Linked DNA regions of Homo sapiens: region 2 is reported to be linked to region 1. The links are microRNA targets in miRTarBase. Many come from high-throughput screens and were not tested one by one. Region 1 holds a microRNA gene; the other region holds the end of a gene's coding sequence.

Region 1 (4,928 bases):
CGCGGCAGGAGTACGAGCGCCGGGCCCAGCTGAAGCTGATGGACGACCTCGATAAGGTGCTGCGGCCCCGGGCTGCGGGGTCCGGGGGTCCAGGTCGGGGCGGGCGGAGGGCCACCCGGCCTCGCTCGGGTTGCTGTGACGACTCAGCCCTGGCACGAAGCCCAGCCCGCGGCCTGCTGGGTGAGGACCCTTGGGGGACGGGGCCTGCCCAGTGCCCTTTCCGGGGCTCACTGGGTGAGGCCCCCATGGGTAAGGGGGGAGGGGGAGGGAGATGTAAGCAGGGGTGCCGGGAGGGGGCGGGTATGTGGGGTGACAGGGGGCCTCAGGTGGGGTTGGACACTGTCTCTTGGGTAAAGACTTCCATAGGGGGCCGGGCGCGGTGGCTCACGCCTGTAATCCCAGCACTTTGGGAGGCTGAGGCGGGCGGATCACCTGAGGTCAGGAGTTTGAGACCAGCCTGGCCAACATGGTGAAAGCCCATCTCTATTAAAAATACAAAAATTAGCCGGGCATATGGCATGCCTGTAGTCCCAGCTACTTGGGAGACTGAGGCAGGAGAATCGCTTGAGCCTGGGAGGTGGAGGTTGCGGTGAGCCAAGATTGCACCACTGTACTCCAGCCTGGGCAACAGAGCGAGACTCCGTCTCAGAAATAAGACAAAAAAAAAAAAAAAAGACTTCCATAGGGATGTGGGGTGCAGTGGGATGAGGGGTCTTTCTTCTGTGGCTTCATGGATAGGAACCTTTGGGAGTATGTTTGGGGTGAGGCGTTGCCAGTAGGGGCTGACCCAGTGCTGCTCCCCACTTGCCTGCTGGGCAAAGCATCCTCCCTCATAGAGGGGTCCCCCCATAGGGGTGCTGCAGAGGGCCGAGGGGTCTTGGGCAGGACTGACTCCTCCTGTGTTCCCCCCACAGCCTGCTGGACCGGGTGTTGTGGAGGGCAGGGGCTTCTGGTGGGCACTGACCTGCAATCTCTGTCCCCAGGCTCTCGGCTGAGCAAAATCTATTCCCAGTCCACCCTGTCACTGTCCACTGTGGCCAACGAGGCCCACAATAACCTCGGGGTGAAGAGGCCCACGTCTCGGTGAGTTTAGCCCGCACAGGCGGGGTTCGTATGCCGGGTGGCTTCCCAGAGCCTGGGAGGTGTGTGGGCATCTGGGTGAACCTAGAGGGCGGTATGGCTCGAGTTTATGGATACGCCATGAAGAGATGGAGGGACGCGTGTGGGCACGTGTGCATGGGGCATAGTCTGTACCTGGCAGACAGGACTCAAGCATGTGCCTCAGTGCACTTGAGTGCCAGGTGTTCCTGTGGGAGGAGGACAGCACGGGGCACTGCATGGACTTGGGAGGGTGTGCAGTGTATACCGCCTCCTCTGCAGTGTGTGTGGCCCGCCTTTTTTTTTTTTTTTTTTTTTTTTGTTTTTTTGAGAGGGAGTCTTGCTGTGTCGCCCAGGCTGGAGTGCAGTGGCGCAATCTTGGCTCACGGCAACCTCCGCCCCCTGGGTGCAAGTGATTCTCGTGCCTCAGCCTCCTGAGTAGCTGGGGTTACCCGTGCCTGTAGAGACGGTGTTTCACCATGTTGGCCAGGCTGGCCTCGAACTCCCGACCTCAAGTGATCTGCCCGCTTTGGCCTCCCGAAGTGCTGGGATTACAGGCATGAGCCACGATGCCCAGCCGTGGCCCTTATTTTCCTTGGCCCCTCTGCACATAGGGAAGCTTCCCATCTCTGACCCCACCTCCATCCCATCCTGACCCCACCTCCATCCCATCCTTCTCCCACTGCAGGGCTCCCTCCCCGTCAGGTCTCATGTCCCCAAGCCGCCTGCCTGGAAGCCGCGAACGGGACTGGGAAAATGGCAGCAATGCCTCCTCCCCAGCGTCAGTGCCCGAGTACACAGGTAAGCAGGGGCTCTGGGTGATGTGAGGAGCAACAGGCACCCTCCTCCACAGCCCCTGCTCATTCCTGCTGCCCCCCACCCCCTCCCACTGCCTCACCCTCTAGGTCCACGGCTGTACAAAGAACCCAGCGCCAAGTCCAACAAGTTCATCATCCACAATGCCCTATCACACTGCTGCCTGGCGGGCAAGGTGAACGAACCGCAGAAGAATCGCATTCTGGAGGTGAGCCCGCCCACACGTGGGAGTTGGGGGCTGGTGGGTGGGTGGGTGGCCTGACTTGGCCAGCTGACCATTTCCAGCACTCCTGCCCAGGAAATTGAGAAAAGCAAGGCCAACCACTTCCTGATCCTCTTTCGCGACTCGAGCTGCCAGTTCCGGGCGCTCTACACGCTGTCGGGGGAGACAGAGGAGCTGTCGCGGCTGGCAGGGTATGGGCCCCGGACCGTCACGCCCGCCATGGTGGAAGGCATCTACAAGTACAACTCGGACCGCAAGCGCTTCACCCAGATCCCCGCCAAGACCATGTCCATGAGCGTCGATGCCTTCACCATCCAGGGACACCTCTGGCAGGGCAAGAAACCCACCACTCCCAAGAAGGGCGGCGGCACCCCCAAATAGCCCCACCCGGGCGGTCCACGGGCCGGGCCCTGTGTGCTGCGGCCGCCATCCCCTGGAGGACAGTCAGTCGGTATTCCTGGGTCCTGTCTGTCCCCAACCGTGTCTGGGTGGGGCTGGAGTCTCCACCCTCTGACTTTGAGTCCAGTCCTGCTGTGGGGGCTGAGCTGGGAGGTTCAGGGACTCAGGGCTCAGCTCAGTCCCCTTGTCTGTCCTCCCCCACTTCTTGAATAAAATAATTTAAAGAGAAGTTGAACCTTGTCCCCCCCTCCGAGGCTGGCCGGGGTCCCACACTCCCTGGCTGTGTTTTTAGTCTCCTGTTCTTTCTCAAACCAACTCCTGTCTTCAACCCCCATAATCCCCTAATGCAGCTTCAGCCAGGGCACTCCCAGCCCCCAGCCAGGGCTGTTTCGAAGCTGCCTCTGAACTGATCTCTCAGGCTCGAGGTGTCCCACTGGCCCTTCCTGTGGCCTTGGCCACCCCCGCTTGCTGGATTCTCCTGGTCTGTGTGGCTGTTGTTACTGGCCCTAACCAGCGTTTGGCATGGGGCCAACTTCTAACTTGATCTTGTCTCCCCTGGCCAGCCTGGTGTTTCCAGGCCTGGCATCTACCTCTGGGCCAGTGATTCCAGGTTTCTCTGAGATCTGTGTTTGACAATCCAGTTGCCCCCTGCCATTGCCTGGGTGTCTCTCTCAGATGCAAGGCCTGCCCTGCAACCCAGGCTGGCACTGGCTTCCCAGCTGCCGCCCAGTTCTACACAGCTCAGCCCTCCCCTCCTGTCTCACTCGCTTCTCTCCAGCCCTGTCACCTCCCTGCAAAGTCCAAGCCAATGGCCTGGGCCTCCCCATGTCCCCAGCTGCCTCCTGCCCACACAGCAGCCTGTGTGACCCGTTCGAAGCACAAATCTGATTATATCCCTTGATACTTAAAACCCCTTAATAGCCTACAGCCCGCTAATGGCTTCCCAGGCTTAGGACTAAGGACCACGCCCTGGTCCTGGGCCGTGCACAAGGTCTGGCGCCTGGCCCCCGTCCAGGCACAGAAACGCGTTACTAATCAGTTCCCAGAGCTGGGCCAGAGCCTGCCTGACTCCAAGACTTGAGGGCAAGGGCCAGTCCCTAGTGGGGAACAGACAGTGGGTGCCACCCCAGGGAGGCGGCAGCTGCCTGGGGCCACAGAAGGGCTCTGAGAGGCAGGGGCTGGCGAGACCTGGGCAGCCAGGGGCTGGATTGCCCTTCCCAGGCTACAGAGGCTCAAGGAAGTTTCCGGGCAGGACCCACTCCAAGGCCCCAGGCAGCGGAGGGACTGGCCTCTCGAGTCCAGAACTGGCTCTGCGGGGTGAGGCCGGGCAGTATCTGGCCTGGGGCCCAGCCGCCCCACCTCCCACAGCAGCCAATCCCGGCCCAGGGCCAGGCACTCCTGAGCTGTACTCCCTCGGGCACCTGGGCAGCAGGAAGGAGGCTCAGACCATGATGTACAAACGTAGCTGTATTGGGGAGGGGGTGGGGAGGGGGGATGGGGGAGGGACGGGTCAGTCTTCCTTCAGGCTCCCAAACACTGCGGCTGGCACGCTCTGCTGCTCCAGCCGAACCTCTGTGGGGAAGGCGGGAGCCAGTCACCCTCCTGGCGTTGGCCTGTCCCCCGAGGCCCACCCTGGTAATGCCACCGTCCCCGCCCCAGCCGGGCCCTCACCGTTGGGCTCCAGGTCCATCTCGTCCTCGTCCTCGTCCTCGCCCAGCTGGATCTCCTCGGGGTTGACCTGCTGTGCCAGCTCTGCCAGCTCCTCCCGGGAGGCGTCACTCCTAGGGACGGGCCATGCTGCCTCAGTTCCCCACCCCGGGCCCCCTTGGGACCTGTCCCAGTCCTGTCCCGTCCAAGGATCCGCCCTCACCTCACGAACAGGATCTTGCTCTGGGCGCGCAAGGGCTGGTCACGCTCCGCCTCAGCCGCCAGCTGCTCTGCCCGCTGTTCCAGCAGCTTCATGTCGTCCATGCCACTCTGCCCAGGGGCCAGGTCAGACACTAGGGGGTGGGAGCAGGGGGTCAGCGCCACGGGGGCCCCTCCCACACATCGGACGTTGCACTATCCCAGTCCCCCAGGTGATGGCCCAGCCCTCAAGGAGATTGCCATCAGGATCCGAGGCTCCCAGACCCGGAAAGCCCAGGTCAGGCCGGGCTGAGATGCCCTGGATCAGGAACTCAGCCAGCTGGGACGGCTCACCGGTGCCCGTGGCACTGCCCGAGACCTTGAGCATCTGCGAGGCCATGAAGTTGACCTGCGTGTTGTACGTGGCCTGCACGCTGCGCCGGATACGCAGCATTTCCTTGATGGTGTCCTCATTGCCATGCCGGACCTCAAAGTCCTTCCACGTCTGCCAGAACGCGCCGGTCGTCTGCGTGGGGGGCAGGGCAGG
Region 2 (3,000 bases), not on the chromosome of region 1:
TGAAAAATCTCTACAAAATGTCTTTGAAAAGCAAAACGAGACTGCCTCTTAACAATTCGTATCCTCATGAAAGACGTGGGCTGTAAAAATAAAGCAGTGTGTTTAGCACAAACTAGAAGATATCTGCATCATTTTTTTCACAGTTATTTCCATCTACAGTCTGAAAGAGGTAGATTTTTCTGCAACACCTGAGAATTGAATTGTGATAACCAGGTGTAATAAAGGCAGTTGCATACATAACTGAAAAATACTGGTCTCAAGACCAAGAAATGTACTCCTAACAAGTCTGAGGATGAAATGGTCCATATTACCCAAGACCCAAGTTTTCTCTACACCTTGGAGTCCACCGCCAATATAAATAATACACATCACGATTCCATGATGGTGCAACAATTGCAATTTAAGTGAATTCAACATTTAAACCTTTTCTGGGCCAGCCTAGTAGCATTACAGTGTTCTAGAATATGGTAGATACGGGGTGCGCTACAAAGCCACAACACTGGGCTGGTGAGGTGATCACTGTAGGAAGATGTCCTTCTCAGGGGGTCCCATTTGTTTTTATTCACAGGGTAATGGGAGGAAGGGTTCTGAAAGGACAACAAATGCATCCCAGACAGAATCCATATCCTTTCAACACTATAATAGCATCTAGCTAAAAATACAAAGTAAGCCAAAAGCAGCAGGCCAAGTACTGTTAATCACATTGCTTTAAAGCCCTTGGAAGTATGCAACAGGCCCAAGATTTACAATCTTCCACACAGGACAAGCACCACAAAGAAACGTGGTGGGCTACACAAATGGCTTAATAAAATGTTAAGAGCTGTACATCCAGCAGAGTTCTTGTGAAATAATGTGATCATTAGTACTAATTTTAAGGTGGATTATATTTCTGATCTATACCTGCATTCCCCCCCACCACCAGGGAAATGAGTCTAGTATTTTAGTAGCAGAACAGGGTGTACTCCTAAGAGGCTGTTGGAGGGTGGTGTTTTTTGCTTCTGACTCATTTTGATGGTAATTAGATAATCTACTTTGTGGATTTATTTTCCTCCACTGTGGCCCCTTGAATTAACATGACTGATAGTGGAGGCTTAGATACAACCCTCCTCCACTCCAGGCGGTTTCCTATCTATCTATCTGTTGGACAATTTTCAATTCTTTCAACCCAGTTTCGACCATGAATGTGACAGGACTTTACAAATAACACTTGTAACAAAGAGAAAACCCTTTTAACTGGACAAAACAGAGTTTATTCAGTCCAGTAAGCAATTTAACAAGTGTCAGTCTGATAGTTTTGCTCAGTGGAATGTGCTAACATCAGTTCTAGTAGAACCTTTTATTTCATAAAGCATTTCAATGCAAATTATACCAGGGACAAAGTCAAAACTTCCATCAGTGCAGCCTGATTAATCATCTGCATAACTGCGCCACATTCAACATTGAAACAAAGAACTAATTCAAAAGTTATGTGCTTAATTTCAAATTTTCCCCCAGTCCAAGTGTAGAGACCTTGATAATACTGTGGCTTTTCTTTTTTCTTCTTAAAAAAGAGATGGTAACTAAGAAGGGGGTGAGAAAACAGACTGAACACGTAAGTAACAGATCATGACTAACACTCTGCCAAGTCTTCCCAAAGTAAAAATGTTGGTGCCAGTGTTTGTTTTGGAAATGAAAATCAATTTCGGTTGGTACTGATCCATAATGAAAATTCCCTTTTGAAAAACCTGGAGTACTTTGCTGGTGGAATTTTTGTAGTAACTTTCAAGTAGCCAGAAGGTATTGGAGAAACTTCTGCCTAGTGAAAGTGACACGTGAATTGACCGTCCTTGTCTTTGACAAGGGACTTCATTGAACGGCAAACATGAACACCAGTTTTCAAAGAATAAGTGGCCTTCTATGGGAAGTGGAGAATATGTACTGAAATCCCAAATCAGAATCAAACACAAACCGCCATCCTCTACGGGAGCCCCTCATGGTCCAAATCCCACACCTGAAACCAAAGCAGGATGACTGTTCAGTCACGTAAACACTAAGCTTATTTGTCTAGTGATTTGCCTCTATGTACTATTTTGTCCACAAGTGACATCTTTATATACATATTCTGCCGAAACTTAGGATTCTAGGCATGTGGCCATCTCAATTTGTCCCGAGATATAAATGTTTTCAAAAAGCTAATTTCAATCAAATATGCTTCTGACCCAACACTAGGAGTTTTATTTTTACTTGGCATTTAAATGGGTTATTAGACAAAACTAATCGCCTTGGTATTTTGTTTTTCTGAATAATATTATGGGGGGGGGGGCTAAGACGTTTAAATTAATATTGTTTTCACATCAAGGAACCATCGTCAGAACAAAGTTCCCTTGTAATGGTCGGCCCTGTCAGTGAAATTTTCATTAGGATGATAATGTGCAAGGAGCAGGGAGAGAAAGGACAAGGCAATGAACACATGCATTCCAGTGGAGGGAGAACGAGGCTGATGTGCAACACAGCTGAGGAAAATTTATAGATTAAACTATTCAAAACTGCTAAGCAGCCTCCTGTACCACATAAGTCCAGTAGTTCTAAGAAAATACAGATATGGTAGAAAAAGTAAGAAAATTTTCACCACAAAACCAATAGTTAACTACTAACAGAGAAAGTTATACACAAAATATATCTCTCAATACAGTGATCACACCTCATCTTAGTCAACCGACTCGATGGCCGGAGCAGAGCCTGTGGACGGGGGCTTTTGCACAGCGCTTCTCTGACTCTTGGGCTCAGCCTCCAGGTGCGCTCCCAGGGCTCTTTTCGAGGAAGTGTTCAGCTCCTTGTGAGAATCCAGGGCAGTACAGGGCTGCATCACAGGTGTTGCTAAATCCCTGTTCGCCGCTTTGATGGCCGCTTTGATGGATACCTGCTCTTTCAGGACTTCCACCTTCTCATTGAGCTCATTCCTTTCTGTCTGAAGAGCCCTGCACAGCTTCTCTAACCGTTCCAGTTTTATTTGAAGGGCCT

The links. The annotated mature microRNA hsa-miR-6792-3p reads CUCCUCCACAGCCCCUGCUCAU and lies in region 1 at 1,941-1,962, shown strand. An mRNA with a match to its seed (bases 2 to 7 or 8) in the 3' UTR can be bound and repressed. Matches are read on the target gene's strand: a 7mer-m8 pairs with bases 2 to 8, a 7mer-A1 pairs with bases 2 to 7 and ends in A, and an 8mer does both.
Region 2: the mRNA of TXLNG is a reported target of hsa-miR-6792-3p. Seed matches in the 3' UTR shown: 7mer-m8 at 1,105-1,111 and 8mer at 1,046-1,053.

The regions. Positions count from the first base shown.
Region 1 is chr19:7,615,540-7,620,467 of GRCh38, forward strand. It overlaps MIR6792 (microRNA 6792), which reads left to right and starts at 1,900; the gene lies at 1,900-1,966. CAMSAP3 (calmodulin regulated spectrin associated protein family member 3) reads left to right here. Exons shown (of 17, transcript NM_020902.2): 13 at 1-180; 14 at 984-1,083; 15 at 1,787-1,899; 16 at 2,004-2,122; 17 at 2,213-2,765. The coding sequence ends at 2,518. XAB2 (XPA binding protein 2) reads right to left here. Exons shown (of 19, transcript NM_020196.3): 16 at 4,736-4,907; 17 at 4,407-4,536; 18 at 4,208-4,317; 19 at 3,986-4,108. The coding sequence ends at 4,047.
Region 2 is chrX:16,841,453-16,844,452 of GRCh38, reverse strand. It overlaps TXLNG (taxilin gamma), which reads right to left. Exons shown (of 10, transcript NM_018360.3): 10 at 1-3,000. The coding sequence ends at 2,687. It overlaps RBBP7 (RB binding protein 7, chromatin remodeling factor), which reads left to right. Exons shown (of 12, transcript NM_002893.4): 12 at 1-112. Among named protein-coding and RNA genes, the nearest start is that of RBBP7, 27 kb to the left of the region's middle.